Homo sapiens: one gene and its partner. The protein of the gene in region 2 purifies or fractionates together with the protein of the main gene of each other region. This does not show direct contact. Each region holds a gene or a part of one and is shown on either strand. Other genes may lie near its edges.

Region 1 (16,137 bases), on a different chromosome or scaffold from region 2:
CTGAAGAACTTTCAAACTCTTTAGCTTTATGAGAAAAAGATTATGTTGGCGGTATGAGTTGTGATGACATTGCGAGATCACAATGCCATTAAGCAATTATGTTACTTATACGTAATATGGGGGTAGGGATGGGGATTACATATACTAGTATTTAGAGAATATGACAATAATTAAATTATAAGTGATGTACTAAGAAAGGACACAGAAATCAGAAAAGTGGCCAAACAGGCTAGATTTGATTTATTTAAACTGACTCACCTCAATTTCCTTGTAATAACACTGGAATAGTTCATGTCCAGGTAGTGATAGAGAATGAGATTTTGGATGCTTTGTCCTGCTTTTTAGAATCTACAATTTCCACATCGTTAAATTCATTGTAGTACTTTCATTATTTGCCTTTAGATTTGATTTTCTTATACTTGGTGTTCTCAAATTTCCTTTGGTCACAAATATTTACATTCCTCTCTTTTACTTTAAAAAATGTTGTGTTCAGCAGGGCACGGTGGCTTACGTCTGTAATCCCAGCACTTTGGGAGGCTGAGGCAGGCAGATCATTTGCTGCTAATGTGTCTTTTTAGGATTTATAGGATATTTCCCGCAACTAGAATTCTGTCCCTCAAAAATGCTATATGTATATCCCTACTGTTTGCTCAGGGTTCATTTTCAATTGTAGCATTTTTTGAAGACAACATAGTTATAAAAAAAAAATAGGAGAGAAAAGAAGGAAAACCAAAGGGTGTTTCTCCTCATTCTGGTGAAACTGGCTCTGTTGAATGTTTTGCAAAATCCAAAAGAGGAAGTAATCCGATACTTGACCACAAGGGTGTGTTGCCTCAATACTTTGACTAAGGCAAACCACGAGCTGTGCAATGCTTGTGCTGACAAATTATCTGCCCCTTCCCTGCTCCCTCTCCCTCCTGCAGAAGGGGAATTATTTCATTTGAATGTCCACAATTACCTTGGAGATAGTGTTATTGCTTTCTGGTCCTGGCCAAGAGGCCAGACATTTAGACAAATTGTGAGTGACCAGTTAGAGCCCAAATGCTGACCCTGCACATTCTTCCACACTAACACTTACAATGTATTGAAGTTATCTGTTTGCATGTTTGTCTACATGTCTACATTGTTAAATGTCTTAACAATGATCAGGAATTAAGCTTATCCCTTATGCTCCCTGAAACTAGTGCTGTGTGCTTGGCACACCACAGATGTTCAATAAACGCATGTGGAAAAGAAATGGAAGTAGAATATTTTCATTTGTCAGTTCTTGAATTGAAACTATAAAGAAGTGTAAGGCATTAATAATTATAAAGTCTGCATAGAACTCTTATTTGAAGCTTACTCATCCTTCAAAGCATATTTTGAATGTTTCTTCTTCTATGCTGTCTTTCTTGATTTGTCGAGTCAGAATGACCATATTCCAATAGTATCTTTATTTCAAAATGATTTATATTTAGCTTCATATTGTGTTTAGTTGTTTCTGTATCCATATCTGCATCATGACAAGTCAACTTTGAATGGGTATCTAATTTTATTTTTCTTCCTGTTCCCTTACTCTACATCACCCAGTCTCTAGCATTAGGTAAGAATTCAAAAAGAGTTTGTTGAGTGCTGTGAACTGACTGTGTGTGTCTCCCTGTCCCCTAAATTAATATACTGAAGCCCTAATCCCCAATGCAATGGTACTTGGAAGTGGGGCCTTTCGTAAGTAACTATGTAATGAAGGTTGAGCCTTCATGAATGAGATTAGTCCCTTAGAAGAAACATGAGAGAGATGATCTCTGTCTGTCATGTGAGGACACAGTGAGAAGGCAGCCAACTGCAAACCAGGAAGAATCCCAGGCACCAAATCAATTGGCACCTTGATCTTGGACTTCCCAGCCTCTAGAACTGTTAGGAATAAATTTCTTTTGTTTAAGCTACCCAGTCTCTGGTATTTTTTAAATAGCAGCACAAACTAAGACATTAAGTGATTAAACAAATAAATTAATGATGAATGAATGCATGCAAATAAATGAATATTGCATGCATGCATGTATGTTGTCTGCCATATTTCAGGATGCCACTAAATTGCTGCTAGCTCTGTTCTCAACGAAAAGAATGATCACTAAGAGAGTAAAAGTATTCACCATTTGGTGACTGTCAATTTGTATAGCTGCTGTGTTCTGTTGCTCACCCTCTCCTGCTGCAGTTTTAACAATCCACGGAAATGGGGATTGTACGTTGTAGAGACTATCTCTAAAATCAAACACCTACAGATTAGGAATGTGAATGTTAGGTCAATCTCTCACTAGATTTGTCTCTCATTTGGCTTGGTTTTCTAACTTTGCAAGCTAGGAAGAGAATTCTCAGCTTTGTTGAATGGCTGTAAATTGTAATTTGGAGTTACAGTTGTGTTGAATATTAGTTATTTTGTTGTCCAAATTCCAGTCTCTTTCTTTTAAGTAACAGCACTCGAATTTTGCATTAAAGAACCCACTCATTCCCATCGCTCAGTCCACGAGGTTTGGACCAGTCTTCACGCTTACCTGCCTGATAGGAATAGGAACCCAGTTTAAGCCGAATCAGTACAAGTCATCCCCATGGCCACCATACTTGGTTCAGATTTAGGCACCTAACTTTATCTCAGCCAGTGAGAGAAAGACTCCTAGTATTTGTTTTTACGGTCGCCAGGATGCTGTAATGTCTTAAGCTGTTGGGGATCCCCAGAATCAAGCTAAACCTTAAGAAGTAGAGTGAAAGATGTTATAATTTTTCACTGAATCAAACTCACACAGAAGGCAGACTTATTCCTTATCTTCTATTAACTCCCCAAACTGAAAAATTCCCTTTTTGCTTAAGCCTGTTTTCATAAAATTTTCTGTTACATGCGACAAAAAGAATCCTCACACACTGCGGGTCTGAATATTTCATGTACGTATGAATTGTTTAGGGTAGCTTGCTAAAATGCAGATTTCCAGTCCCCAAACCTAAGATATAAATCAGGGCCCAGGAACTTGAATTTTATCAAACAGTGTTGCATTTTAACAGACCATCTTGTTAAAACAGTGCCCCTGAGCCATATGCACATCTCCATAATGCAGATAATTGGCAGACCAAAGCTTGAGAAATACTGATATAGTTAATGCAAGAGACACTAGTTAACAATGATAAAAATCAGGAGAGGTGCAAAGTATCACATAGCAGCAGGAAGCAGAGACCATCCTTTGTCCTAAATCAGAAATGTGAAAATCCTTTGCAGTATCACGAGTGGATTCCATATTCAATGTACTTCTATTTATAAAATCTTTACTAATTTCTCATGATTATTTCTTCCTGCTTTATGTGTCATGACCAGATATCTCCGTTTGTCTGGAACTGTCCAGGATCCACCTGTCATTCTGGTATAATTATTAATAGCCCTTCCTTCCATTCTCAAAAGTGTTCAGGGTTGGATGATAAATTTTCTGTTCACTCTCTTGCTTCATGGTAATCTGCACACACACAAAAGAGTTCTTTGTCTCTCTTGCTGCATTTGCTGAAATAGACATACATATTTTTTCTATTTTATGACCCTTAGTAGCAGAGACTTTGATATCTTAGAATCATTATTGCCAAGCCTAAAAGTTTTAAAAATCTCAGAGATCCATGTGGCTCTGAGTAACATGTAAACTGAGTAACACATAAACTTACATATATACATATATATCAAAGTAATATATATTACTTCAATATTATGTACTTTGTATTTATAATATATATGTATTATTATTTACTTTAATAACATCATATTTCTTTATTTTATTTGTATATATAAGTATGTTTAAAGTAATCTGGAACACCCTATCATCCTTAGAGTTGGCTCATTCTAAGAAAGTGGAATATAAACCTACGAATCACAGTGAGGAATACATTAGAGAGGTGAAAAAAATGCTGCGGGAACACTGGGAGAGATGACATCTCTGCCAATTCATACATGGCCTAGAGCTCCTATTGCCAGGGATTAATTCTGGAATAACTATAATTTCTGTTCAGTTGATAAAGGGATATGGTGACAGAGGAAAGATAAGTGAGCTCTTTGGCAGGTGAGGAAAATGATGTCAGTGCTATTTTCAAAGATTTTTATGCACATGGAATGAAGAGATTTGACAGAGGCTATCACAGTAGTTTACGTTTCTGCTAAACTAACCTTAAAAAAAACTTGAACTGCTTTGATTTTCTTTACTAATGCTAATTGTAAATATTAAGTAAACACACAAAAAATAGCTATCTTGTGTTTTATTTGTAATCAAGGAGTATCTGGTATTTAGTAGTAACTTTTTTTCCTACCTTAAAATAGGTATACATTTGTTAAATATTCCAGGAGACATTATGGTTCCATATTCATATTTTTAATGTTGGAGGAATTTAGTTCAGTGATTTCTGCCTAACAACTGTTGTTTCAAGATAATTTGCTCACTGCTTGTTTGGTTCTGCTCAAACACAGCTGTAAGTTCTTTCTTTCTATATTTGGAGATGGAGTGACTGATGGCTGGGCATCAACCATCTGGAACAGGGTGTGCTGGGTGGAAGAGAGGAGAAGGGACAGATCAATGCACGGCTTCACTACATGGCCAGGGAGTCAGTACTAGAATTTTGTATATCCTGTATCCCTACTCTGATCCTGACCTTTGACTCTATGTGGTTAAAAGAGGAAATGACATCCTACCTGAATTTTTTGTCAGTTTTATCAGGCTTAGTGCCTTCCTTTTAGAGTCAATATTATATTCACACCCTCTCCACTTCCCAAAATTAACTTCATAAATAACATAACCAAGCTATACATATATACTTAAAAATCAATATGACTATGATAATATAAAAAATTTATGAAAATAATTCATAAAAATCATATATATTTCAATACTTAACATTCATCCATGTATCACAGAAATATATAATGAAGTAGTGAGGTGCTTGTATCTAAATTTAGATTTCCCTAAATGTAACAGCTACGCAACTAGACTGACACAGGTGCATTCTATCAGTGCCTCAAATACTATGAGTAATTAGCCGTTGGTGGCATGATATTTTAAAATGAGATAGACTCTTGATAATGTTCAGAAAAAAGGTCAGTGTTTCCTTACATTACACAGTTGCTTCATTCCTGTAAAATTTAATGTATATTAAAACCTTCCAAAAATACTTATATGTGAAATGCAGTTCTAGGCAGGGACAATTATAAACAGGTTTTTCACCTACATGAATGTCTGGAAGGACATCTAGAAGTCATGCATGACCTGGGGCAATTCTTCAAGGTATGGAACTGCACTGTGCATTTCAGGATATCTAGCAGCCCTGGTCCCTTCCCACTAAATAGTAGCAGTGCCCTACCCCAATCCTGAGACAATAAAATACCATCCTCCATTTCCAAAGTGCCCTCTAGGGGACGGTATTAACTCCACAGAGGATTACTAAGCCTATACAATTCACTGAAGCTAGGGATCATTTACATAAGACCTTATTTTATTTTTTTCTTTCAAGTGTCATTATTGGAAGACCCATTGTCAAGTTCCAATTAAAATGGAACAATCATCTTTCCAGGGTGGATTCTCAACAAATAGTTGGGAGAATGGACAGAATCTGTTGTTCTTTATGTATGTATTTTATTTAAATTGCAAATAACCTCAAGTTTTTAGTGGTGTATAATAATAGATATTTATTTTTTCTCAGTCACTAGCTTGTGATTCAGCAGGGGTTCTGCCAGAGTTCAGAAAGATTTAACTCCAGGCTGACCATCAGAAACTTGAATACTGGTACTGCCACAGATGTGGGAGAAAAGTTTCCTTATTTTGAACATCATTAGCAACTTCTGATACAAAGTCCTTGGTAAAAGAGTTTTACTTGAGGCTAGAACTTTAGCTGCAAGGGAGACTGGAAACATGAGTTTCTGATATTTTCATCTTATTTAGTGGGAGGTTGATTCTGCATCCAAGATTCATAAGGTGGATGTATCATTTAGTTTGGGTAGGATTATGCCATGTAACAAACAATCCAGCACCCAAATCTCCATAGTTAAAATAATAAATATTTATTTTTTTCCTTATACAACACAGTAGTTGTAGATTATCAGTGAGGCCTTGGTTCATCATAATCTGTCTAGAACCTGGATGGTAGAGCAGCTATCATCTCAAGCAGTGCTTTACACTGTGCCAGAGACAGAAACTTTGGTGAGCTGGCATTAAAAATTACCAACTGGCCATGACAAATCTCACTTCTAATTACATTTTATCAGCCAAAGCAAATCAAATAGCCATACATAATTCTAAGGAGGGTGGAAAGTATAATCCTGTCATGTCCTAAGGAAGATGCTACAAGTATTTGGTGTTCTGAACTAATGCAACCATGATGAGAAATTTCTCAAACATGGAAAGAGAGTTGAGATGCTGGGCAACCAAAAAACAAGATAACAAATATCCACTAGAGACTGTCTTATTTATATCTTTTCTATAACAAATATCCACTAGAGACTGTCTTATTTATATCTTTTCTATGTATCACCATGCTCAGTCTAGCTCAGTAGCTATTAGTGACTTAGTAGATGCTGAATGAATGTTTGTTGAATAAAAAAAGAATGATTGTTTAATTTACCAAATCTTACTATAACTGAAGCTTAAAGAGAGTTACTTTGCTATTTTAACTCCACACTATGAAGCAAGATAAATATAAGTGACATTTGTATGCAACGTTGCACTTGAAAACCAGAGTGGTACAGTGGAAACCAAGAGAAAAAAGATGTTTCATTTCAATATTATTTTCAATGTGTTCACTTATTGGTTTCTCCCCACAGCAAGGATACTGTCTCCTGTGCTTAGTAAAGTTTGGGAGGGTAGGTATTCGATAAAAGCAGTTCTGCTATCATTAGCTGTGTAGTCTTGGGGAAGTGATATCAATGTAGCCATAGGTTAAGGTTATTCAGCTGTGCCTGAGCACGCGCGTACACACATCTTAGTAATATTCGTCTTTGTATTGTAAAGATCTCCAAGACTGGAAAGCAATACAATTGTAATACAGTTGTACAGTTGTGATTGTCATGTGACATATTTACAGCCTAGTGTCTATCACAAAGCATCCATTCAAGGGAGGTTTATTGATTTTGTAGTAGTAACCATGCTCTATTCTTGATGTGGAGTGGGATGGATATCTAAGAAAGCATGTAATGCATTTGAAAAAGTTTGCCAAGGGTCCTGGGTAAAGGGGTTTTGGTGACGTGGTTCCCAACGAATCAAGAATAATAAACAATGCCCTTCGTCCTCAAATCTCAAAGGTCAAATACTTCACAACTACCAATAGGCACCAAGAGCTCGCGTTCTTTCCTCCAGTAACCAGAGCCCCGCCCGCTAGCGGTCCGTCAACGACCGCAAAGCCCCGCCTCCTACGGCGGCCCGCCAATCGGCTGCGCGGCCCGGGCCCAACCCTCGTGAGTCACGTGACAAGGCCAGGCCCGCTTCCGGCACGTCGCGGGCGGCTGACGTCGCCGGGGCCCGGCGTCGCGTCAGGGCTGGCCGGCGGCGGAGGCGGCGGCGGCGGCGGCGATGGCAGCGGACCCTGAGCGAGCTTGAGGGCTCGGACCCAGCTCCCTCCCGCGAAACCTTGGGCGGATCCGGCGCTGCGGCCCCAGCTCGCTCCGCTCCTGCTCCCTCCCCGGCCGCTGCCTGGGCGGAGGCAGAGGCAGAGGCCCGGGCTGGCCGCCCTGCTCGTGCCCCAGCTCGGCCCCGGACGGCCCGGCTGCTGTGCAGAGAGGAGGCCGAGTCGGTAAGAGGCGGCGGCGGCTGAGCCGGCAGGCCGCCTGGCCCCCGCCGGGCCGCCCGGGACGCCCCCATTCTGGTGTCTCTCTTTCCGGCCCGCTCCCCTCCCGCCTCCCTCCCCGTAACTCGCCGGCCCTATTGTCTGGGCGCCGCAGCTCCCTCTTCCCCTCCCTTCCTTACCCCCCTGCGGAGGGCCGGATGGCTGTCAAACCTGGAGGCTTCTCCAGCTCCCTGCCAGCCCTGTCAGCCTTTCCTGCCTGTCTCGTGCCACCCCCTCTCTGTCTGGCCTCACCTCCTCACCTTTTTTGGCCTGGCGGTCATTCTCTGACCATTGCTTTACATTGTCGGTCTCTATGTCTTCTTGCTCATTTCTTCTTCCCTCTAACTTGTCATCTCCGAAAACTTCCACTGTCCTATTTCTTGCCATTCTTTGCTCCTTTCCTTACTGTTTTTACTCCTCTCCGTGCTTTCTGCCTTGTTTTTGCTTCAAGTTTTACTCCCAGTAGACTGTCTTACTTTATGAAAGTTCCTTAATTCAAATCCCTCTTCATCCTTCCCTCTTCGAACCTAAGACAAAGGAAAATCTTGTTTTTTTTCTGGTACTTCATCCCTAAGTGTCACTGGGGGATTATACTCATTCAATCCATCACTTAATTATGGGCTCTAAGTTTGATTCTAGATGTTAGTGTACCTTGTGAACTATCCCTTACTGAATTCTTCCTGTGACAGACAGCAGAAAAGGTTGATTCGATTTCTACACAAACATTTAAGTAACTGCCTTACGTGTTGCGCACTGACAAGACCTCTATTAAAAATATTCATACATTTGTTCTTTTGCACCAGCTACACCCTGGGCAAGCTCCCTGTTAACTTTTTAATGCTCTAATATTTGCTTATACCATAGCAGGAGGATACCCACTCTCCCCCTCCAACCATGGGTATTTGAGTTCGCATATTTTCATGGCCAGTATTGATGCTATTTTTTCCCTTACCTATCAGACTCTTTCAAAGAGAAAAGAGGGAGCAGTTGGAATTTTATGTTTGTTGTTCTATTTTGTCTATTATGAATTGTGACAAAACCATTATAAAAGATGACAAGTGTGTGTGTTTCTTTTTTTCTTTTTAAACTGTAGGGAACATAGTCATTAGTGATCTCAAATACCGAAAGACATTTTACGGATCTCTCCTCGCCCCTGATAACAATCAATTTACATTCTTAATTATGAGTTATGTTTTGATTAGGTTATCTCAAAATGTATTCATATTCCTCACATACCCATTAGTGAAAAAGAGGCCACCTCAAGTGTGCTCGGTGGCCACTGTGGCCCAAAATATAGTACTTTGCATGTGAATGACCTAGGGATACATAGGTACTCCTTTGCAGTTTTTGTTCTAGCATTACAACCACTTTTATTATCAATGTGGACACTGTCTAAATTGAAATATAGTAGAAATACTCAGTTAACAAAAGCATGTTATTATTGCTTGTTGAATGTAAAGTATAAGAAAGCAGTCTCTTTTGTAATACTGTATGTTAAATTAAAATTATTGAATTATGTGCTACCAAGGTGGGAGATCATGGGTAATGAAAAATCCTAATCCCAAGAGGAATTAGTGGTATCTTCACTGGCAGAGGAGTGTGCCTACTGTTTCCTCCATCTTTGTGTGCTGTAGGGCCTTATCTAGTGTTTTGTATTATGAGGCACTCAACAAATATTTGTTGAAATTAAAAATTGATTTTGTTCTCAAGAATTTCAGTAGTCCTATTCCAGAACACTCAGCTGTCTTAATTTTTCAAAGGCAGGAAAGCATTTTCAGCTCTCCCCGTGGAGAATTTTCTTGGGTATCTGGAAGCTCAAATGTAAAGCATTTTTAGCTATTAACAATTTTTAACAGTCCATTTACTCATTCTTTTTAGATAGTTTTCTTTGTTCTTTTTCTTAAATCATTATCAAGATTGCCTGCAGATTGCACAGAACTTTATATAGAGATGTTGGTAATACTCCTTCAAATTTCTTAACAATTTGGCAAGTATTTCATATTCTCATGTATTGTTTTAGAAATTCTGTTTAATTTTAATTTGACCTGTTCCCTTATACTCTACTTCCTATGCATTTTCTGCATTGGAATCTAACTTTTTTCTTTCTCTTGAGGTAGTGAAAAGAGAATACTGAAGAATAGGATCTCAAGATGAGTAAAAAGCCCCCAAATCGCCCTGGAATCACTTTTGAGATTGGTGCTCGTTTGGAGGCACTGGACTACTTACAAAAATGGTATGGAAAATATAGAACTTTCACCTAAATATCACAATATCTGTAGCCTTACATATGTTAATTAAAACAGTAAATTCCACTGATGGTAGCAGAAACATCAGTGTATTCACATTTCGATTACACATATATGTTGTTTTTTAGTTTTCCTACTCTTTAGGCTTTTTAGGTTTAGCATTTAAAAACTATTTTTAGTCAACTGACTAAATTATTTAGAACAATCATTTTTGGTGTTTGAGAAATGAAAATAATTGTCTAGAGTATGCGGTTTATGTATACCTCATGTATACCTCACATGAGCTGTATTGGTGGAAGTAGAGAGAGGAGTAATCCAGAGAACCAACTTCTCATGTTTTGGATAAATTTTGATTTAAATTGGTATTTTTGGTCTGTCAGTGGTAGTCTTTCAAACTACAGAGTATATTAATGGTTAGCATAGCATTTTTTCATAGTGAACACTTTCAAAAACATCTCCACTATTCATTATCTCACCTAAAACCAAAATCACACTTAACCTCCTATTTTCCCTGGTGGGCCTTAACCTAAAGGCAGGTTGTTACTGTCTCCAGTGCAAAATAGGCTGTCCTTTCAGAACTTGTGTGTCTCCCCCTATTCTGGCCATTGTGGTAAGTGGTAAATTTAAACACCTCCCAACATAGCCTTTATACAGTGGTTAGGAAAAGTTGATGAATTGGTATAAAACTACTATCTGGAAAGGAGAGAAGGGGAAGCTACATGCAGGGGTCCCTGGGCCAGAGTAGGAATGAGGAGGATTCTCCTTTCTCCTAAGGAGCGTATTCCTCATTTGGGTTAACTGGCCCCTCATTCTGCTGTCTTGGCAGATGTCTTTTGTTGCCATTTGCAGGCTCCTAACCTGAGAGGGGCATTAGAGGGGTTCCGCTTCTGGGAGGGATGCTGCCTTTGCTCCTCCTGAAGCCCGTTTATTTTGATGCGAGTTCTTGTTTAGCAGCTCTTGGACTTTCCCAGACTTTTTGACATTTTCTCTGATTTAAAACCATACTGGGCATTTTGTAGATTTACTTTTGATTGATTTGTATTAAGTCAACTTCCCGAGTTGGCAATGGCAGGCAGAGAAATCTTGTTTAGTCATAATATTTGACTGTATAGACCAGGCTGGGGTTTCTCTCTTTTAACATCTGGCGTTAGAGCTTGGCACATATCTCTGACCCCAGCTTAATGACCTCTTGTTTTGAGCTCCACTTTAGGACAGTTTGAAGCTACAATTTGAGATGGGGAGGTTAATCGATACTGTCACTAGGTGAAGAATGTACATGGTAATTCTTAGGAGGGGTTTGGGAAGTACCTGGGAACTAGGCAGTAGCATCTCTCCTAGTGACGATCAAAATGTCTCCAGACATTGCCAAATGACAACTGGAATGAGGGTGGGTGGCGGTAAAAATGATTGAGAAACTCAGCATTAGACCATGCAACAGAAAATGCCAGTTGAGGCAGCACTTGTCTATCTTGGTTCTCATTTGACCAAGAGAAGCTTTTTACTCCAAAGGCATACTACTGAATGTCTGTGTGATACAAGGGTATAAGAAATAATACTTGTTACTTCTTTGATATTACTCTTAAGTGATTTATTTATTTTTTAAGTTACTGACTTTGTGACTTATTTAATTCATATTAATATATTAGGCTTCCCAACTGACGGTGTTGCAGTTGAGCTAGCTTCCAGTTTTGGAGAAACACATAGTTGATTAGTTCTGTCAGTAATTTTCAGGGATATTAATATAACTTTGATATTAGTGAGAAATTTTCTTTCAGTAGTAAAATGTTTTCTAACTTAGGAGCTGTTAAATTTATGATCCAGTAGTTCAAAAGACTACAAAAAAGAACTTTTAAAACCATGCTTGAATGTACTTTTAGAGTATTCTGTGTTTTTAGAATACTTGGAATTTCAGAGAACAAATGAAAGTTGTATCTTCTTGCCACAAAATTCATATGTGCTTATTTGAGCGGTGTCATGCAAATGTACTCACTGATGAAGTTTAGATTTAATTTTAATGACCCTGGTAATAATAGTTCTCTTTAATGGAAATAAGCATTAGCCAGGATAATCACATATTATCACTGAAACTTGTTATCAGTTTTATTTTTATAAGCTGATTTATATAAAGATTTTGGCACTCTGTTTCAGGTGGCTCCTTATTTAAAAAAGGATTAAGAATATTGTATATATGTATTCTAGGTAATTTACAAAAATAATTTTCTTATGGTAATTTTGCTTATTAATGTCAGTAGTTTCAAGAACTAGTTAGGCTTAGGTGCCCCTTAAATTTAGTATTAGGTGGTGTGCTCTTGGACCAACTATTTAATTACTAAGATGTATTGAATTTTATATGGGACACAAAAGTTCTGAGATTAGTGCTCTTAACATTTTATTTATAAATAGGATAATAAACTTAATTCTTCATATTATTCCATTTGTAAATGACCATTTTACATTTCATGGAAATTCTGTAAATTTTTGCATTAATATTAAGTAAAATTATAGAATTATTTGACAAGAAACTGACATTCTTGTGAGAAGCAAAATATTATAGTTAATCATTGAAAATATACAGAAATTTCTTTTCTCCCTCTTCTCCCACTCTTCTCTTTCCCTTCTTTCATATTCTATTTTTTGCATCCATATTGAATGCTTAGTCTTCCAAATTTATTCAATTCTCTTTGAAAAGTATTGAGTCATCTTTGAGATAAATGTAGTTTGAACTATTATGGGCATTGGATAGGGAGGAGCAGGAATGCAAATCTTGCTTACTGTCTCTATACTCAAAACATTTACAATAAGCAGTATATTACTGAGAAACTAACTTATCACATGTTGATAAATCACCTTTTGAAGAGAAGTGCAAAAGGAAAGTGGTGCTAGTGAAGAACCCAAAATGCCTATTAAAGGTTTTTCTTGCTTTTTTTTTTTTTTTTTTGAGACAGAGTCTTTTCTGTTTCTCAGGCTGGGAGTGCAGTGGCGTGATCTTGGCTCACTAAAACCTCTACCTCCTGGGCTCAAGCTATCCTGCCACCTCAGCCTCTTGAATAGCTGGAACTACAGGTGTGCACCACAAGTCTGGGCTAATTTAAAAAAAAATTTTTTTTGTAGAGATGAAGTGTCACTGTATTGCCCAGGCTGGTCTGGAATTCCTGGCCTCAAATGATCCTCCCACCTCAGCCTCCCAAAGTGTACTCCTGGCTGGTTTCTCATATATAAAAAAGGAAAATAGTTTCTGGTATGTGTCTAGACATAAAAGGATAAACTCTAAATTTAGTAGGTGGAAATAATCTGAAGTTAAGCTCTCACTTTTAGCTTTGGGGTAGATTTGATTTAACAGGAAGACTCAATCTGTGTTTCTCAGGAAAAGTATGTTATTATTGCTTGAATAAACCATATCGTATAATTCTTACAGATCAGAAAGATACCTTATCTTTGAAAATGCATTGTACCTTTTTAAGTAGTGATTTATTTATTTTTATTTTATCTTATTTTATTTATTTTTTTGAGACAGAGTCTTGCTCTTTCGCCAGTCTGGAATTCAGTGGCGCAATCTTGGCTCACTGCAACCTCCGCTCGCTGCAACCTCCGCCTCTCAGGTTCAAGTGATTCCCCTGCCTCAGCCTCCCGAGTAGCTGGGACTACAGGCGCACGCCACCATGCCCAGCTAATTTTTTTTTGTATTTTTAGTAGAGATGGGGTTTCGCCATGTTGTCTGGGATAGTCTCCATCTCTTGACCTTGTGATGTGCCTGCCTCAGTCCCCCACAGTGCTGGGATTACAGGCGTGAGCCACTGCGCCAGGCCTAAAGTAGTGATTTATTTTTATTTTCAAAGTAACTTTATAGCTACATAAGAACACTCATTGGTGGTTTATTTATCAGTACTAATGGACACAGGCCCTGAGAAGCCATCAAGAGGTCAGTCATCTTAGTCCCAGTATTTGCTTTTTGATAATTGGATCTCTCCTACACTGACCAAACATAACTCCTGAGTAGTGTGGGCTGTTTTAATTTTTAAAAATATTATAGCTTTACAATATTTTAAAAACATTTTCTTTTAACTTTTTCAATCATCTGCATAAAGACTTTGACGTGCTAATGTTTACAGCTAGCACAGTCAACTATTTTTTATCTTATTTTCATGTTTTTCACCACAAACTCTGTGCATCCAAACCTTGATATTCAGTTTTATAATCTCTGGAAGGTAGTAACATCATAAGAATAAAAATGAGTATAGGTGTGTTGATACAGAAGTATATTTGGGGAAGGAGAAAGTTGAGAGTTGAAGTTATATTGGAGACACTGTAAGCGGGTGGGTTTAAATTCAGACTGTTACTTATTAATCCTGTAAATATGGGTAAGTCCTTTAACTTGGTTTTCTTAGCAGTAAAATGGAAGCAGTATTACTGGCTTTTATTTAGAGGTTGGTTTTTAAGGTTCAAATAAAATTATGTATTGCTTTAAGTTCTACAGATGGGTACATAATCATAAAGCATTGAGGTAAATGCAAGGGGAGAGGGAGAATAGAAAAGTAAATCTTTGGGGATCTGAAGAGTTAAGTGATTGAGTTTTTAAAGGTAGCTTTAGTTGACAGGAGAGTGGCTTGGAATCATAGAAGGCAAAACATCTCATTGCAACAAGCTGATGACACTTTTTTCTTTTTCCTTTTTTTTTTGAGACAAAGTTTTACTGTCACCCAGGCTGCAGTGCAGTCACGAGATCATGACTTGAAGCAGCCTGCAGCCTTTACCTCCCGGGGCTCAAGCCATCCTCCTGCTTCAACCTCCCAAGTAGCTGGGACTACAGGCGTATGCCATAGTAACCTGCTGATTTTCTTTTTCTTTTTCTTTTTTTTTTTTTGGTAGAGAAAGCGATCTCTCTGTGTTGCCCAGGCTGGTCTTGAACTCATGGGCTCAAGCAGTTTTTCCATCTGTCTTGTTCTTCCAAAGTTGTAGACAGTCTTTTTGAAGTGATAATAAAATCCTCATGTTTCCACAGAGTTTTATAGAGTTTGCTTGCAAATATTAAAGTATCTAATCATTCTGAATATAGTTTAGTAAGAAAACTGATAAAATCACACTGGCGTTGACTACTGATTTAACTCCTGTTTTTTGATTGAAATTAAAATAGTTATTCTACAGTAAGCGATTGTTACAAAAACACAAGAGATTAAATAACATGCTGTGGTGTTAATCTTAAAATAAATTTGAAATATAGAGTCAATTTAAAACATTCAGATGAGATATGCTCCTCTGACTCTTTTGGAATATTTCTATTTAATTCTCTTCTAAATCTAAAGAAAAGGAAAATGAAAGATTAAAAAATGTGGAGATATCTCCAAGTATCAGAGTTTAATAGAACAGTATAAATTTGAATTGGCAAATGCTGTTTTCACACATTTGAAGTTTTTTGAACTGTATGGAACATTTGCAAATGTGAGTTTTTAAGATGTTCGTGCAGAATTTTAATAGTATAGGAGAATTAAGGAAATTTACATTGTAGCAAGTACAAATACTTGTTAATTTAAATAAAATTATACATTTTCTGAATAAAAAGTTACTTTTTTTCTAATTAGATTTAACTATTCAAAGGAAAATGCTACTAGAGATAAGTTGTGTCATCTATATTTAGAGTAGGAGAATGGTCCTAAAGTGTAACATGTAGATCAAATATAGCATTGTAGGAACACCAGGTGAATACTTCAAAAATAGAGGTTCTTTTGCTAATATTAATATGCATGCAGTTTTTGTCTTTTCATAATTTGGGATTCTTTCAGTTTGTCTATACATAGAAAGTAATGATTATTATTTTGAGTCATTACCTTTGAAAACCAATGCCAGCTGTAGACTTAGAAAAAATATACAGTTGTATGTATACATCAAAATAAATGAATTACATACTATGGTCATAAGTTCATAGAAAACGTATACATGACCTCTAGGTTAAGGACCCTTCTTGCAGACAATTCATTTGAAATCTGTAAGTTTTGTTTAAAAATTCTGAGATAATTTACATTTAGATAGTCACAAATTTTGAATCTTAAGGTCAAAGTGAATCATCCAGTTTAATTATCAAGCAGATTTG
Region 2 (16,041 bases):
CTGTGTTCTCTCAACCTCTCTGGGGGATGGGTCCACACAGCTGAATCCAAAGGTCAATGCCAGGACCCTGTGGGACTGGTTTCAACATCATACCTTGCCCACATGAGATGGGAAGGTCCTGGGGGAAAGATCCCAGATCTGGGAGTCCCCACAGTTCTCATGAGAGACTCACCTGATGCTTGGTTAGAGATCTGAGCCAGGCCAGGGAGGCTGCTTGCCAACTTAGCGAGGCCCCCATTGGTCAGCAGCTGGTGGATGGCTGTGGGCTTCCCACCAGGAGTGGCACCCAAGGAGGAGAGAGTGGTGGCCACAGGAATGGTACGGACAATGGTGCTGGTGCCCGTGGTGATGGCACCCAGGCTCTGCATGGGGGTGGGCAACTTCACACTGGTGGCCTGTGGGACACACAAGCCCAGGTGATCAGAAGCTGTCGCCCAACAGCAACATTCGAGCTTGGAGGGCCCACAGCATATTATTAAAGGCTAACATGTATTGAGTGCCTACTACATGCAAGGTACTCTTCCAGGCATTTTGCATATATTATTTCATTCTTATAACAACTCTATGAGGGAGGTACTATTATTACCTCATTTTATAGACAAAGAAACAAAAACAGAGTGGTCAAGAAACTTGCCCAAGGTCACACAGTAAATGATAGACCTTAACTTTTGTAAGTTCCCTGCTATGTAGCTAGAAGGCTGTTTGTCCTTGATCCACTGACTCCAGACCTAGTTTCCCTGCCAAAACCAACTAAGCTGAGGAGGCCTCCTCCCTACACCTGCCCAGCCCAGCAGATGGCAGATGTGCACCTGTGGGGCTGGTCCTGGGGAGGGATTTGCTGGAAGGCCAGAGGTCTTGCTGCTGATATCCTGCAAGCTGAAGCTGAGGCCTTGGAGGAGGCTGCTGGCTGATGTGGCCCCTAAGAGAGGACATAGCAGGAATCAGTAGAGACTCAATCACTTGCACTATCCCGAGAGCAGCCACATCCATCCACCCTCACCACCAACTAAAACACCAGTGGTGCTTGCCCTTGGACACCCGTCCTCAGAGAGAAGGCAGGAAGCTCTCCCCAACTAGGCACACACGCAATGGATGCCACACAGGAAAGGTACTGTGCCAGACACTGCCCCGGACTTGCTCTGCACCTGCTGCAAACCATCAGTCATACATTTTAGACCATTTTGAGAAATCCAAGTTTGTTCCTTTCTTTCCAGGGAAGAACTTTTTAAGCCAAAAGAATTATAAATATCCAACTTTCACTTCGCCTCACACAATCAAAGCAGTAAGGAAGTAGCCTCAAAGCAATAAGAAAGGTTCTCTTAAAGGAAAAGGGTTTATTTTATTTTATTTTTTTTTGAGACGGAGTTTCGCTCTCGTTGCCCAGGCTGGAGCGCAATGGCACAATCTCAGCTCACTGCAACCTCCACCTCCTGGGTTCAAGCGATTCTCCTGCCTCAGCCTACCAAGCAGCTGGGATTACAGGTGCCCACCACCACACCCGGCTAATTTTTTGTATTTTTAGTAGAAACGGGGTTTCACCATATTGGCCAGGCTGGTCTCAAACTCCTGACCTCAGGTGATCCACCCACCTCGGCCTCCCAAAGTGTTGGGATTACAGGTGTGAGTCACCATGCCTGGCCAGGAGAGGGTTTCTGCAATGCCTTGGCCCTGCTGGGCTCAGGCAACAGGCCTTTCAAAGTAGGGTTAGTGGGTAGGACAAAGAGAGAGACAAGCACAGACAGAAAAATGTCTCATTTTGCTAATGCCCAGTGTAGCACCATTTCCAGTTTTATTCAGGCAGATGTGCTTAAAACAGCAAAGTAAAACCACAGTCAGCTCTCAATTATCTGTGAGCTTCACAGCAGATTTGCAGATTCAAACAACCACGGATAGAAACCTGTGGATATAGAATTCCAACGGTATGACATAATTTCATATAAGGGACTTGAGCATCCATGGATTTTGGTAGTGGTGAGGGTCCTAGAACCAATCTCCTGTGGATAAGAAAGGCTGACTATACATATATGTCCTATCGGCTATTTCTCCTTACAGTAGAGGATACAGCACCTGTAGACTGGAACATTTACTCACTTGCAGACCAGGACATTTACTCACTGCATTTATTCAAGGCCAAGGAATCCCTCTGCCCAAGCTAATTCCAGCTTCACGTCAAGCCTCTATGATCACTCTAAGACCCAGAGGCCCATCCTATGGATTTAGCTCCAGGGATGCTTTCCCAGGACCACCCAGAAGCAGCAGACCAAAAATTCTGTGTTGGAAGGGGAGAATGCTGGGCCACAAGATACCTGGGAGGGAGCTGCCAGGAGATGTGGCCACCAGGCGGCTCTGCAGTGTGTGCAAGGCACTGGGTGCAGTGCTGCTGGAGACCACTGAAGGGACTGGGCTGGCTGAGACTCCACCTTCAGAAGAACTGGACCTGGAGACAAAGGAAGGAGCTCTGTTATCCAAAGGTCACAGGACAGCAAGCCCTAGCAACACTGGCAGGGTACAGAGTGGGGCCCAGCAAGGCTTTCAGCAGCAGACATACACCAAAAACCTTCAGCTTCTTTGTCCCACTTTCTGTACCTGGCCTCTAGTCTTCTAAAAGTCCTTACTTACAGGACTTATAGCAAAAGCCAGGGGACGATTTGGAGTCTTAAGTAAAAGTGAACTCTGGGTTGACTCAAAAGCAAGACAAAGATCCCAATCAGAAGTAAGTCACATTTCCAAAACTGACAAGAATCCAGAATCCATCATTTTCCAAAGCACTAAATAAACCAGAAACAGAGGGAAGGGAAAAAAGGAATAGACACAGATGGTCCAATAAACACTCACTTGGCTGTGGTGAGAAGTCCTGTGAGCTCCTTGGCCCCTGCTGAAGCCTGCCCCAGTGTCATGGTGATGGGCTTCCCACCTGCAGCTTCAAAACAGAAAACCCCAAGGCCCCTGGTCAGTCCTATTTGGCCTCTATGTTTCCAGGTTCCACAGCTTAGGCTAAATGCAAGATATTACGGACGAAAACTGGAAAATGAAAAAAGATGAACTATGCTAGAGTAGGGAGAGTTGGGGTTATTTTTTCCTTCTATTTTCTAAACTTCCTGAAATATTCTGTACCTTTAATTGAAGCCAACAAAAAAAGAACAAAATATAGGATGCTTTGAACGATGGCACAGCTTCCTCTCATATTCTGCCTGCCTGGTCCTCATTCAGATGGACTCATGCCAACTTTACCCACATGTACAGACTCATGTCTTCTTTGCTCCGGGCATCTCTCAAAATAAAGCAAAGGCTGACATGCTGGTGAATGGCCACCAAAGGGCAATGCTGTGTACCTGAGAGAGCTCAGTTCTCATTTAACGTACCAAGAGAAACTCACCTTCTGGAGCACTTCCTTGGGAAGGAGCACAAGGCCCTCCAGCTGTGTCCCCTTGGGAGATAAGGGACACCTTGATCTTCGGTCGTTTGGAGGTCTTACTGCCAGGAAGGGGACTCGAGGGATGGTGTCGCTTCAGCTGAACCCTAAGATCCTCTTTCTCTCCTTCCTCTGGTGGTTCTGATGAAATGGGAACTAAGACATGGAGCTGAGTTGAGATCCTCCACAATCCAAAAAATCCCAACAGACACTCAGTCAATACCAGCACCAACACAGCCATGTGTAGAATGTAGAACACACAGGATAACCACTCTACGTACAGGGCCACCCCTCAAAGGAGACTGCCCATGCTTCAGGACCACTTCACTCAGGCCCTGTCCGTGGGGGACCCCACTTTGCCCTTCTTAGAGGATGGCACCCTTCTCATCCCTCATCCTGCACTGGAATCGGAAGAGAAGGGGCCCTGAGTTGGTAGGAATTAAAAGACAGAAGACATCCTGACCCTGCCTAGCCAAGGCCAATGGCAACAACAACAAAAATAGAGGATTCAACAGAATGAGTAAACAGTCCTTCTCAGACTCAAAAAATGTGATCATCTTCCTGTCTGAAGCCCTCCCCACATCATCACACAGTTGGAGACATCAAACATTCTATGAGAACTCATGGAGGAGCAGGTCATCCAGTCCTCTCTAAAAAGTAGAGTTTTCCAAAGGCTCTCAAGAGTCCCACCCTGCCCTAAGAGCCCACAGTTGAGGATCCACTTGCCAAATGGAGGCAATGAAGAGGAGTGTCACCAGGACTAAAAGCTGGCTATGAGTAGCTACTAGGAGAGAGAGTACCTCAACCAGGCAACCTCACGGCTCCCACCCAAAAGTAACAGGGCAACACTGGCCCATGTCACAACCTAGTCCCCAGGTCATGTGTACTAGTACAGACAAAGGCCATCTGTTCACACATGGGCTTCCACTTCCACTGAATCAAACAGGCTCATCATGTATACAGCCAAGCTTTTTGGACTCTTAGGTTATCTTTCAAGCTTCCTCAAAGATTCCCTCCTCTTTAAACCCAGAAGTCCACCCTAGTCCTCTTGTAGCACAGGGAAGCAAAGACTGGTGTGGGGAGGAAGGTAGCAGTCACATGAGGAGGGAGGAGGGGTCCTGGCATGAGGCAACAGTCAGGACATAACCAGCTAGAAGGATTGCTTAGGGGACAAATGCACTGGCTAAAATCAGAGTAGGAAGGAGGGTGTAGGGGAAAGGAGTTTCAGGTTCTATGCTGATATGTGGCTGGTAGGCTTGTAGCCACCAGATAAACACAGGACAGGAGGCAGGGAGAAAAACACACAAGGAAACTGAGACTCAGGCAATGCCACAGACATACAAAAAAGCAGCAGAGCCAAGACCGTAGTGAAAGAAAGAACCACACTAAGAGACAAAAAAGAAAACACCATGAGAAGCAAACAAAAGAATGGAAAAAGGGCAAAGACTACAGAGTAAGCAAAAGGGGTCAGCAAAACAAAAGAATACAAAGAAAGAGAGAGAAAAGAACAGGAGGAAACCAAACTGAGGCAGATGAGAGGCAGAGATGGAAAATAAATAAGGGGTTGAGGAGCAGAATGTAGTGGACGAGCAGGCAAGAAAGAGTAATACTCACCAAAGAGACAGGAGGAGGTGCCAGGAGGAAGAGCTTTCCTCACCAGCATATTTTGTTTCAGAAAAGCAGCAAACTGTGCTGGAATGAATCAGAAAGAATTACAGAATCACAGCCAGCCAGAGAAGGGAGAAAAAGAGAGGGAATAAGAAAAAAGGTTGTAGAAAATGGCCAATAGGGGCTCCTTCTGAAATTACTGCATGGCAACCTGACTCTGCCACGGAGTCAGTCTGTAGAAGCATCTAAAACTGAATAGTACTATCTGCCTCATGGGGCCATGCCAAAACTCAACAAACTACAGCAATGCGAGTGCCATGAAGAAGGCATGGCACACAGCAAGGACTCCATATATGTTCGCTATTAGTATTCCCCGTTTGCCCATCAGCTCTGCTAAGCCAGGGTTCTAAAGCTGCTACTCTCCCCCATGACACCCTAGATCCCCATTTCAAACCCAGCTCGCCAATCAGCCTTCCAAACTCCTTAGATTCTCAACTAATCACCCTCTGCAGAAGCACAGCAGACCACCAGCTCTGTCTTCTTCAGAAGTGTAAAGACACACTGTCCACACGGGACTTGGCTCTGGCCACCACTCATGAAGATCCATGGCAGAGCATCCGCGCAGACCCTTGGGGCCTGGCCTCATTTCTCAACTCCTCCCATCCACTCACACTTCTACTCCTTGTTAGTACTACTCTTATAAGCAAACTCACAAGAGGTCTGGGTTTCGGTTCTGATCATTTGGCTCCACTAAAAGAAACACAGGGAAAGTAAACAGATGAGCCTCCTATCCCCTCCACGTCTGTCTGCCAGACAGCCAGCTCTGGCTGCTGCCTCTTCCCAGGCACCCCTATTCCTGAAAAGCTCAGGTGACATGCTCCTGGACACATCGTTAAACACCAATGCCCAAGAGGCCTTACCTCAAGGCCACCCAACTGGATCAATGTGGGGGAAGGGGGACAGAACCACTGTTTCTTCTTTCCCTACCCAATGAACTCTCCCTTTTCTATAGCTCCTTTCATAGCACTCGCAGCTCACCAAACTCTTACTTTCGACTATAGGAATACTTCCCAGCTTCATCTGAAACCTGTATGCAGAGAACCCTGATAAACTTCACTGAAAGTCTCAGTGTGAGAATCTTAACGCTTCAAGGGTCAAACAAAGAAAGGGCATGATGCCAGGTGAGTTACCCTAGAATCTGATTAATAAAATCAATCACCCAATACATATGATTGGAGAGCCCCGACTGGAGGAGTGGCTGGCAAGGTAGAAAAAAGTTTAGGCCAATATACATGTTCATAAAGCCTAGCCTCCCCAGAACAGCAAGACAAAGCTATAACTAGTGATCACAAAGCCCCACTAACTCAGAGGCCTTGGCATTCATTTCAATAATTAATTTTGAATTTTGCCTGCACAGAAATGTGAGAAAGGGCGCCTCTCACATCCCCCTGAAAAAAGCCATAGATATCAATACTGTGCAACTGCCATGTGACATGAACTACAGAAGACAGACCCAAGAGGAGCCACTGGCCAAGTGCCTATACCTTGAGCTTGTTTGTGGGTCAGCACAGCTTCTGTCCGCTGCACATGTCTCTTCAGCAGCTGAGAACTTCCAATCTGACTGGACTTCTGGGCAGAGGTCACTGTGGTCACTTTGGTCTTGGGACTGGAGGTGGGGCTGCTGGACACACTGGAGAGATCCTGAGTAAGGTGAGAAGGTCAAGAGATGAGACAATGTTACTAGGATCTGACCATGAGTCAGCATGTCCCTCTGGAATTCCCCTTGTAGGAACTCACAGGCCCATGGCACTAATAAGACAGAGGCATCCCCAGGAAATTAAGGAACCAACTCTGTGGTGCTGATTCCCCAGCAAAAGCGCTCCCTCCCTGCTCACACTACCTCTGAGCCTGAGGGTGAGGCGGGCAGCTTGGCAGCTGGGGAGGCAGGTCGACTGCCCCGCTCAGGGACTTCAAAGGCCAAGTCTCTGCGGGCCACATCGCGGGGCTTCTTCTTCTTCTCAGCATCCTGATCCCGAGGTTCAGAGCCCATGTGACCCTCAGCACGAGTGAGCACTCCAGTCAGAAAGTCCACAATCTCATCCTAGTGTAGAGAGGAGCCAACCAAGGCCTTTTAGTCCTCATCTGGAGAATGGGAACCTCTCATATACTTTCCAACTAAAACAGATTCTCCCTCAGCTCTGGCATCCGCATGTGCCAGTCCTTCCCCACTCAAACAAGGTCTGGCGCAAATCCCAGGCTTCTGAGCAACTGTGGTTCAAGAAGACCAGCAAGTGCCTCTGTCAGGGGGAGCTCTGGGGTGGTCACATTCCACCACTTTTCCAACACTCTCCCCCGTGATGCTTTGCTTACATTAATTCACCACTCTCATTTTTCTTTTCTTTGCTTATGACTGAGACCTACCAGAGGCCCCAGTGGAGGCCTTAGAGCCAAAGAGACCACTACCAATAAGACCAAACCTAAAAGGCTACAGAAAGGCAAGCCTAGCTGAGAAAAGCACACAAAACAACTGTTTACCTGAATACATCTGTCCACCATGCTCTGAGTCAACCCTTCTGATTTCTTCTTTGCTTTGCTTATTCTAAGAAACAAAAAGGATGACATGTTTACTTCTTACACATTGCACGGCATCCTATGAAAATAAGAACGTATTTCTTTTCTGGGTTGTTTATTTTCTAGCCCCAGAAGGAGGGCCATGTTAGCCTTAGGCAGGTAATGCAACCTCTCCGAACCTGTTTCCGTGTCTGCAAAATGGGGAATCATAACATCCCATTCATGGAGTTGTGGGGATTAAACAAAATAACATATGTAAAGAAACCAAGCACAGTGCCCAGGACAGTCCGCTCCAGAATTCCTATACCTATAGCTTAATAGATCAACTCTATCCAGAACTCAGGAGGCGGAGGTTGCAGTGAGCTGAGATTGCACCACTGCAGTCCAGCATAGGCGACAGAGCCAGGCGCCACCTCAAAAAAAAAAAAAAAAAAAAAAAAAAAAAAGCTCAAGGTCGTGAAAGACAAAGATGGAGGAACTCTATCAAATTAAAGGAGACTGAGGAGACATGGCAACTAAATCCAAGTGTGATCCTGGGCTGGATGCTGGACCAGAAAAATGACATTAGGGAAACAACTGATGAAACATGAGTCTGTAAATTACAGTATCATGTAGATGTTAATTTCTTGATTTTGAGAATTACACTTTGGCTATGTAAGATGTTTAACATTTAGAAAATCAGGTGAAGGGTATATAGGAATTGTTTTGTACTAGTGTTATAACTTTTTATAAATCTGAAATTTCAAATATTAAAAAAGGTTTTTTTAATGCTGTCTTTTTTTAATTTTTTTTTTTTTTTGAGACAGAGTCTTGCTCTGTCACCCAGGCTGGAGTGCAGTGGCGGGATCTCGGCTCACTGCAAGCTCCGCCTTCTGGGTTCACACCATTCTCCTGCCTCAGCCTCCCGAGTAGCTGGGACTACAGGCGCCCGACACCAGGCCTGGCTAATTTTTTGTATTTTTAGTAGAGACGGGGTTTCACCGTGTTAGCCAGGATGGTCTCAATCTCCTGACCTCGTGATCCGCCTGCCTCAGCCTCCCAAAGTCCTGGGATTACAGGCGTGAGCCACCGCGCCCGGCTAATGCTGTCTTTTAACTGAACCAGACTGGTCTGTAGTTACATTGCCAGCTTCCAGGCTTATCTCTAACACTGTAACACAGCTCTCTTGCAGCTCTGGGAGAATCCACCCACCTGAGATTGTCATCAGCTCCCCCAACCACCACCAAGCTGTTCTCAGCTCGAATCTTCTCCCGGAAGTCCTCCATGGCTTCAGGGTGACATTGAAGGGAATTCTGACCAATGACAAAGAGGACTGGAGTCTTCATATCCAAGAGGGGATCATCTACATCCTAAAACAGGTATAGGTTTTAGAATCGGCTTCTTCATATTCACAAAGCACTGACCCAGAAACTCCACTAAGGAGGATCAGCCATGCAACTGCAGTCAGCCTCAGCATCAGCTTGGACAAGGCATGCACACTCGCGCTCCCACTGCCAATGACCCAGCACTCAGCTTTACCACATTCTTACCCCTCTGGGGCCATCCACAGTAAGCAGAGGAAACCCAAGGCAGACAACTGCAGTGACATACTCCATTACTGACACCTGTAAATAACAGAACAGTTTGTCTAAACGTCAACTGAGTTCATGGCACCTCAGCCTACCCAGAATCCAGGAGTGGTCCAGACCCACCAGACAGTCTCACCTCTTCCTCTCCTGTCCTAATATCCGGGTGCATCTTCTGCCACAATGGCAGCAGTAAGAGCACAAGACACAAGGTATGTCATTCCATAAGCAGCCACTACCTAGAGAACTGGGGCCCTAAGAGGACCCCAGCAGGTGGCTGAACCATAGGATAGAAGGTTCAGTATTCCTACCCTGTCAACCCCCTCAACTAGAGCCCTCCTGCTCCATTTTTCTCCACAAATAGTAAATATAGTCAAGAGAACACAATGTTGCCATTAACCCTTAAGTGAAAAAAAATTCTCTCTATTGAACTTAATGGATAGCTACCAGACAGCCTAGATTTCTTGGAGCAAACTGCTAAGGCCTAACACCCTGGGAGCAGGGACTATGGGGACCTTCTTCCTCTCATAGCTATCACACTTGATTGGACTGCATGAAGCAAAATTAAGGGTTTGGACATGAGGGACACTTACACAAACTGACAGACATACAAATATATGTAAAATACGAAAAGATTCCTTGATGTCTTGGAAAAAGACTGAAATGAACACAGCATCAAATTCCAGAGCTATTAATATTTGCCAGCTACAATTACTGTTGTTTTTTAGGTGGGAGAACAGTATGGTACTTATGTTTAGAGAAAAAAAGGGATCTTTTTTTTTTTTCCACAGATATATACCCATATGTGTGTGTGTGTGTGTGTGTGTGTGTGTGTGTGTATGTGAAAATGCTATTATATTTGGGATTTTCTTCAAAACAATCTAGGGGAGAAAGAAAATGAGCAGGGTGAGATGAAACAAGCCCAGCCAAGAGTTGATCACTGGTAAAGCTGGGTGAGGATCCGGGGGTTTATTATACTACACCTGCTTTTGTTTCTGCTTAAAGTTTTCCAAAATAAATTAAAAATTGTTTTAATAAAATTTGTCTTCTACAGTTTAAAATGTAATTATATAGGTAAAGTATCTAGCGCAGAGCCTGACACACAGTAAAGGACTCAATGGTAGCTATGATTAGTGGTATTCCATCCCAGGACAACCTCCAAATAAGATAGAAATTACTTACATGACAGGCCACCAAAGCTCCTGTGTTCCAGCCAATCAAGATAATGGGTTTGTGTGGGAAATGGCTGTGAATCTTCATGGGAAGAGAAAGAAGACAGTAAGACAGGAGGCCAAAGATAGGTGCAGAACAACCCCAGAATGCTGGGTATGCCACAATGTACTGAAATACGGGCATTCTCACCTCCAGCACTTTGCTTCTCACTGCCCCAATCATATGCTCGAGACACTGTAGAACTCCTACCCCACTGCCATTGTTCAGCAGATGGGTGGCTACAGGGATGACCTGAAGGAAAGAAGTAGCCCCCACACCAGCAGAGGTAAGTTTCAAATCTTTCAATTCTGTTTAACCTAACCTAAACCCAAAACCTTGGAATTCCACATGAAAGAAGGATTAGAGGAGGCTCCACATGAAAGAAGGGTTAGAGGAGGCTCCACATTCAAGTTACCCATTTTGACCTCCTCCCACATATTCTTCTCCTCAATCCTCCAAGACTATATTCCCTGCCAGGAAGGAGTTCCTCTTGCCCCCACACATACCTTGCCCAAGCAGGACAGCTGAGATTGCCAGAAGCGGTGGCGGCGTGAAGTGGGAAACACAGAGCTGGAGGGACCAGAGGAGGCGATGAGAATCAGCGGAGAGCCAGGGAGTTTGCTCTAAAGAGGAAGAATCCCACCCAAAAACCAGTGAGTGAGAAGTGTCCTTTCATGAAATTCCAAGTATCCCAATACCTTTCTCATCCCAACCAATGCTCCTTTGCTTGTGAAATTATGTTAAGCACTATGTAAAATAAATTATTAATAATAGTTAAAGAAGCTGGCCAGTCATGCTGGCTCACACCTGCAATCCCAGCACTTTGGGAGGCCAAGGCAAGTGGATCACCTGAGATTAGGAGTTTGAGACCAGCCTGGCCAACATGGTGAAATCCTGTCACTACTGAAAATTAGCTGGGCATGGTGGTGCATGCCTGTAATCTCAGCTCCTCAGGAGTCTGAGGCAGGAGAATTGCCTGAACCCAGGAGGTGGAGGTTGCAGTAAGCTGAGATCGTGCCACTGCACTCTAGCCTGGGTAACAGAGCAAGATTCTGTCTCAAAAAATAATAATAATAATAAATAGTTAAAGAAGCCATTTATCCTCCTGCCAAGGTTCTAAGGCTTGAGTCTAAAATTTTTATGTACCATTGTTAAGTCCTGAGCCATCCAACTTACTGGTTTGTTATGAGAAAGCACACCCACAGCAGGGTCCCAGGGCCTCTTCAGTAGGAGAGACAAGGCCTCAGCTCCTGCAGCCCCAGTCTTTGTGTTGGATGACACAAGCATCCGGTCAATCAAGGTTGGGATCTACAAAGAAGAAAGAGCAAAGATGACTCCAGTGTAAAGCAGGAGACCTTCCACCACCAGCAATCAAGCAGAAGAACAGAGCCCCACTATAAGCCATAGACAGACTTCAACTAAGCCTCTGAAAACCTCCTAAGGATCAAGAATATATATAAATAAGCGGGTGAAAAGTATGCTCCCACCATGAAAAGTGAATGTGTACAATCCTTTGGAAAGCAGTCTGGATATGCAGCAAGGGACTTAAATGTATTCCCATCCCTTTTCCAAATGTTTCTACTTCTGAGAACCTTTCCAAAGAAAACGTATCAGAAACAAAAACACACACAAAAGGATGGGGACAATTATGCACAGAGACAAATTAACTATGAATAATAATAAAGTAAAAACAATTTAATATATATGTGCATATGTAAGGGAGTAGTTTAGTCAACTATCTACCTAATTGGATATTAAAGATTATTTTCGAATATTTACAAGAATTTATTTATTTATTGAGACAAAGTCTCGCTCTGTCGCCCAGGCTAGAGTGCAGTGGCCTGATCTTGGCTCACTGCCACCTCTGCCTCCCGGGTTCAAGCGATTTCTTGTTTCTCAGCCTCCCAAGTAGCTGAGATTACAGGCGTGCACCACCATACCCAGCTAATTTTTTGTATTTCTAGTAGAGATGGAGTTTCACCATATTGGTCAGGATGGTCTTGAACTCCTGACCTCAAATGATCCACCCGCCTCAGCCTCCTCAAGTGCTGGGATTAAAGGCATCAGCCACTGCACCCAGCTTTCAAATATTTACAAGGATATATAATAACACACAGAAATAATTTTGCTAAAATGTTACAGGTAAAATAGAAAATATAAAGATTATCTCTACTCAAAGCTGGGCTCAGCGACTCATGCCTGTAATCCCAGCACTTTGAGAAGCCAAGGTGGGCAGATCACTTGAGGTCAGGAGTTCGAGATAAGCCTGGCCAACATGGTGAAACCCTGTCTCCACTAAAAATACAAAAATTAGCCAGGTGTGGTGGCGCACACCAGTAATCCCAGCTACTTGGGAAGCTGAGGTCCGAGAATCACCTGAACCCGGGAGGTGGAGGTTGTGGTGAGCCAAGGTCATGACACTGCACTCCAGCCTAGGCAACAGAGTGAGACTCTTCTCAAAAAAAAGAAAAAAAAAAAAAAGAAAGAAAGAAAAAAAGAAAAAAATTATCTCTACTCCCCTAATGCTAAATGACGAGTTAATGGGTGCAGCACACCAACATGGCACACGTATACATATGTAACAAACCTGCACGTTGTGCACATGTACCCTAAAACTTAAAGTATAATAATAAAATTAAAAAAATAAAAAAAGATACATTAAGTGGGATAAAACAGATTTCTAAACAATGAATATAATAGAATCATATTTTAAAGAAAATATGCTGCACACCTGTAGTCCCAGCTACTCAGGAAGCTGAGACACGAGAATCGCTTGAACCCAGGAGGCAGAGGTTGCAGTGAGCCAAGAGTGTGCCACCGCACTCCAGCCTGGGAAACAGAGGGAGACTGTCTCAAAAAAAAAAAAAAAAAAAAAAAGACAAAATGTTAATAATGATCTCTATGGAGTTTATGGGTGACTTTTTCCTTTACAGATTTCTATGTTCCCTAAATTTCCTCAATGAGTATCAGTTGATTTTATAATATTTTTAAATCTCCATTTTCTTCTAGAGTACTGCCTTCAAGCTGTGGTGTACTAAATAAATCTGTTATTATGTACAAAAATATATATCCTGCTATACTATATACAGTGTACTTTATCTCATGTCTGTTTTTTACTATCTACCAGAAATGTGACATTACAGATGTGCAAATATAGGTTTCAGACATGTTGATGCTTACACTGAGAAGAAATATCTGCGAATTCCATGCTACCCACAAAAGGTCAAAATGACCTAGGGGAAAGGAAAAATGTTTAAATATTAGAGGCAGTTTTCAGAGAAAGAAAAAGGTTTTGAAAAATTGGAGAATAAAAAGTACTACGGTTTGATGCAAGTTGTAAAACTCCAAAAATAGCAGAAGATAAGTTGCTCTTAATTTAAAAACAGGGACACTAAAAGGATTTCTGTATGAGAAATTAGAGAATTATAACCATTAGACTTTCTCAGTTTAACTCAGGAAAGAAATATTCGTGCAACTGCTTTTACAAGGTACCAGGCTAGTACTGCAGAGGAATTTAATCTACAAGAGGTAAGGAAGACAAACACACAAATAATGGTGGGGGACAGGAATAGGGAAAGACCGATAACTGCCATGAAAGAAACAGAAGCCCAAACTGCTATGATTCAAACCACCCAATGGAGAAGAAGTTAAGAGGCAATTTTCATCTAAAGATACAGCATGTGAAATGAGACAGGCTCTTTGGAACAGGCAGGATTCCAACAGAAGATGAGAGAAAAGCCTTCCCATCAGAGACACCAGCAAGAGGCAAGAATGTGTAGAGCTTATTCCAGGCACAGATGGACAAAAGTCAAGGATGCAAGTAAGGAAGGAGGAGGATGTAAAAAGCCAGTAGGAAGGATAGGACCAAACCGCAAAGGATAAGACCAAACTGCAAAGGATCTTCATGTTCTTTGTAACTCACTCTAGAACTGTGAGCCACTCAACACTTTGAGGCAAAGGATGTGACCCTGGGTTAAGCTTTATCTAACAGTAGTATATAGCTTTGAAACCAAAAAGCCTTGACACTTGCTTCCTGTCAACAAGGGATAAAAAATCAATACTGACTTTTCCACTTGGAGCTGGGAAGACCAAGCTTCCCTGGCCCTTCCAGCATTGCATTCACTCTCAACAGCCAATTAAAAGGCTAAGGTCTATACCTTCTCTGCCCTCTTTATCATAATGGATCTAATAGTGAAAGTAGCTGGGTGAAGAGCATGATCCCATCCACCTGCGCTTTCACATCCAGCAGGCACTTTAAAAGTAAAACAATCCTATAATCATTTATATCCTTTGGGAAACAACCAAAGTATTTGTTGTGAATCTAAATATAGTCATGGGAAAATAAGAGTCCGATGGCAGAGGAACCACTGCGGAGAGCACAGCCCAGAGAGGATGTTGCCTTGAGTCTGAGGCCCTTGCTGACTGGTGTACCAGCGAGCCTTCCACTATTCCAGTCAACCCACACCGTGGCCCAGCAGCATGGGAGGAAAACACCCAACTATGCATGCTATGGAGTCCCCCCAGTGGTCTGCCATGCTCATAATATCCGACATGCACCCAGGAGATGTCCAGTCAGTAACTTAAATAGGGCAGCAGTACAAATTCCTCCTTAAAGGGAAATTATGCTAGCCACAGTGAGTGAAGCAGGGTCACCAGAGAACTGAGACCCTGGCCACTACCAACACTCATCTCCTACAGTGTATTCACCAATGTTACACTTTTACCGTAGGTAGAATGCTGAGGAGAACATATGTGAAGATGCCTACGATACTTCTGGGCCACCACTCTCTGTCTGCCAGGATCCAGTCTGGGCCCCACACTCTACCTGCCCACCACTCACCTCCCGGGTCCAGGGTTTCTACTACAGGGGAGCAGTACAGGGGAAAGTCTGGGACTCCCTTTTCATTTGTCTCTTTCTTCACTAGAAAATACACTCCACCAGAGAAGGGACCAGTTTTGTTTTGCTCACCCCAGTACCTGACACACGTAGGGCCCAAAATAAGTATTAGTTAAACAAAAAAACTAGTGTCAAATTTCCTACCATGAATATCATTAATGTATCTAGTCCTGAGTTTTATTTCAGCACTAAACCAGTCTTCTAACAAACTTGGCACCCTTTAACTTAAAAACACATAAGAAACAATGAGTCTGCAAGTTTTGGGGATGTGGCTGAGGGAACGTGTTGGCCAGGCAACTTACAGCAGCAAGATGAGCCAGCTTCCTGTGAAGCAGAAAGTAAAACTATTAAAAAAAAAAAAAAAAGTGTCAAAAACTGAATCATGCTTATGCCTGTAATCCCAGCAATTTGGGAGGACAAGATGGGAGGACTGCTTGAGGCCAGGAATTCAAGACGAGCCTATAGCAAGACCGTCTCTACAAAAAAATTAAAAATTTAGCTGGGTGTGGCAGGGCACGGCAGCTCACGCCTGTAATCCCAGCACTTTGGGAGGCCGAGGCGGGCGGATCACGAGGTCAGGAGATCGAGACATGGTGAAACCCTATCTCTACTAAAAATACAAAAAAAATTAGCTGGGCGGGGTGGCACACGCCTGTAGTCTCAGCTACTCAGGAGGCTGAGGCAGAATTGCTTCAACCCAGGAGGCAGAAGTTGCAGTGAGCCGAGATCGTGCCACTGCATTCCAGCCTGGGCGACAGAGTGAGACTTTGTCTCAA

The links.
Region 1: the proteins of KANSL3 (region 2) and PHF20L1 purify together in Homo sapiens (affinity purification with mass spectrometry; 2 studies listed by BioGRID and IntAct, with this or other methods). This does not show direct contact.

What each region holds. Positions count from the first base shown.
Region 1 is NC_000008.11:132,767,873-132,784,009, forward strand, and holds the start of PHF20L1 (PHD finger protein 20-like protein 1), read left to right. Parts: upstream 1-7,515; 5' UTR 7,516-7,773; intron 7,774-8,066; exon of another isoform or gene 8,067-8,127; intron 8,128-9,919; 5' UTR 9,920-9,956; coding exon 9,957-10,039; intron 10,040-16,137.
Region 2 is NC_000002.12:96,601,944-96,617,984, forward strand, and holds part of KANSL3 (KAT8 regulatory NSL complex subunit 3), read right to left. Parts: intron 13,602-16,041; exon of another isoform or gene 13,549-13,601; intron 11,677-13,548; coding exon 11,545-11,676; intron 10,992-11,544; coding exon 10,875-10,991; intron 10,621-10,874; coding exon 10,519-10,620; intron 10,411-10,518; coding exon 10,339-10,410; intron 9,196-10,338; coding exon 9,121-9,195; intron 8,941-9,120; coding exon 8,783-8,940; intron 7,620-8,782; coding exon 7,556-7,619; intron 7,122-7,555; coding exon 6,921-7,121; intron 6,722-6,920; coding exon 6,565-6,721; intron 5,105-6,564; coding exon of another isoform or gene 5,027-5,104; intron 3,595-5,026; coding exon of another isoform or gene 3,569-3,594; coding exon 3,377-3,568; intron 2,921-3,376; coding exon 2,836-2,920; intron 2,438-2,835; coding exon 2,307-2,437; intron 920-2,306; coding exon 810-919; intron 396-809; coding exon 173-395; intron 1-172. UniProt on the Homo sapiens protein: Non-catalytic component of the NSL histone acetyltransferase complex, a multiprotein complex that mediates histone H4 acetylation at 'Lys-5'- and 'Lys-8' (H4K5ac and H4K8ac) at transcription start sites and promotes transcription initiation.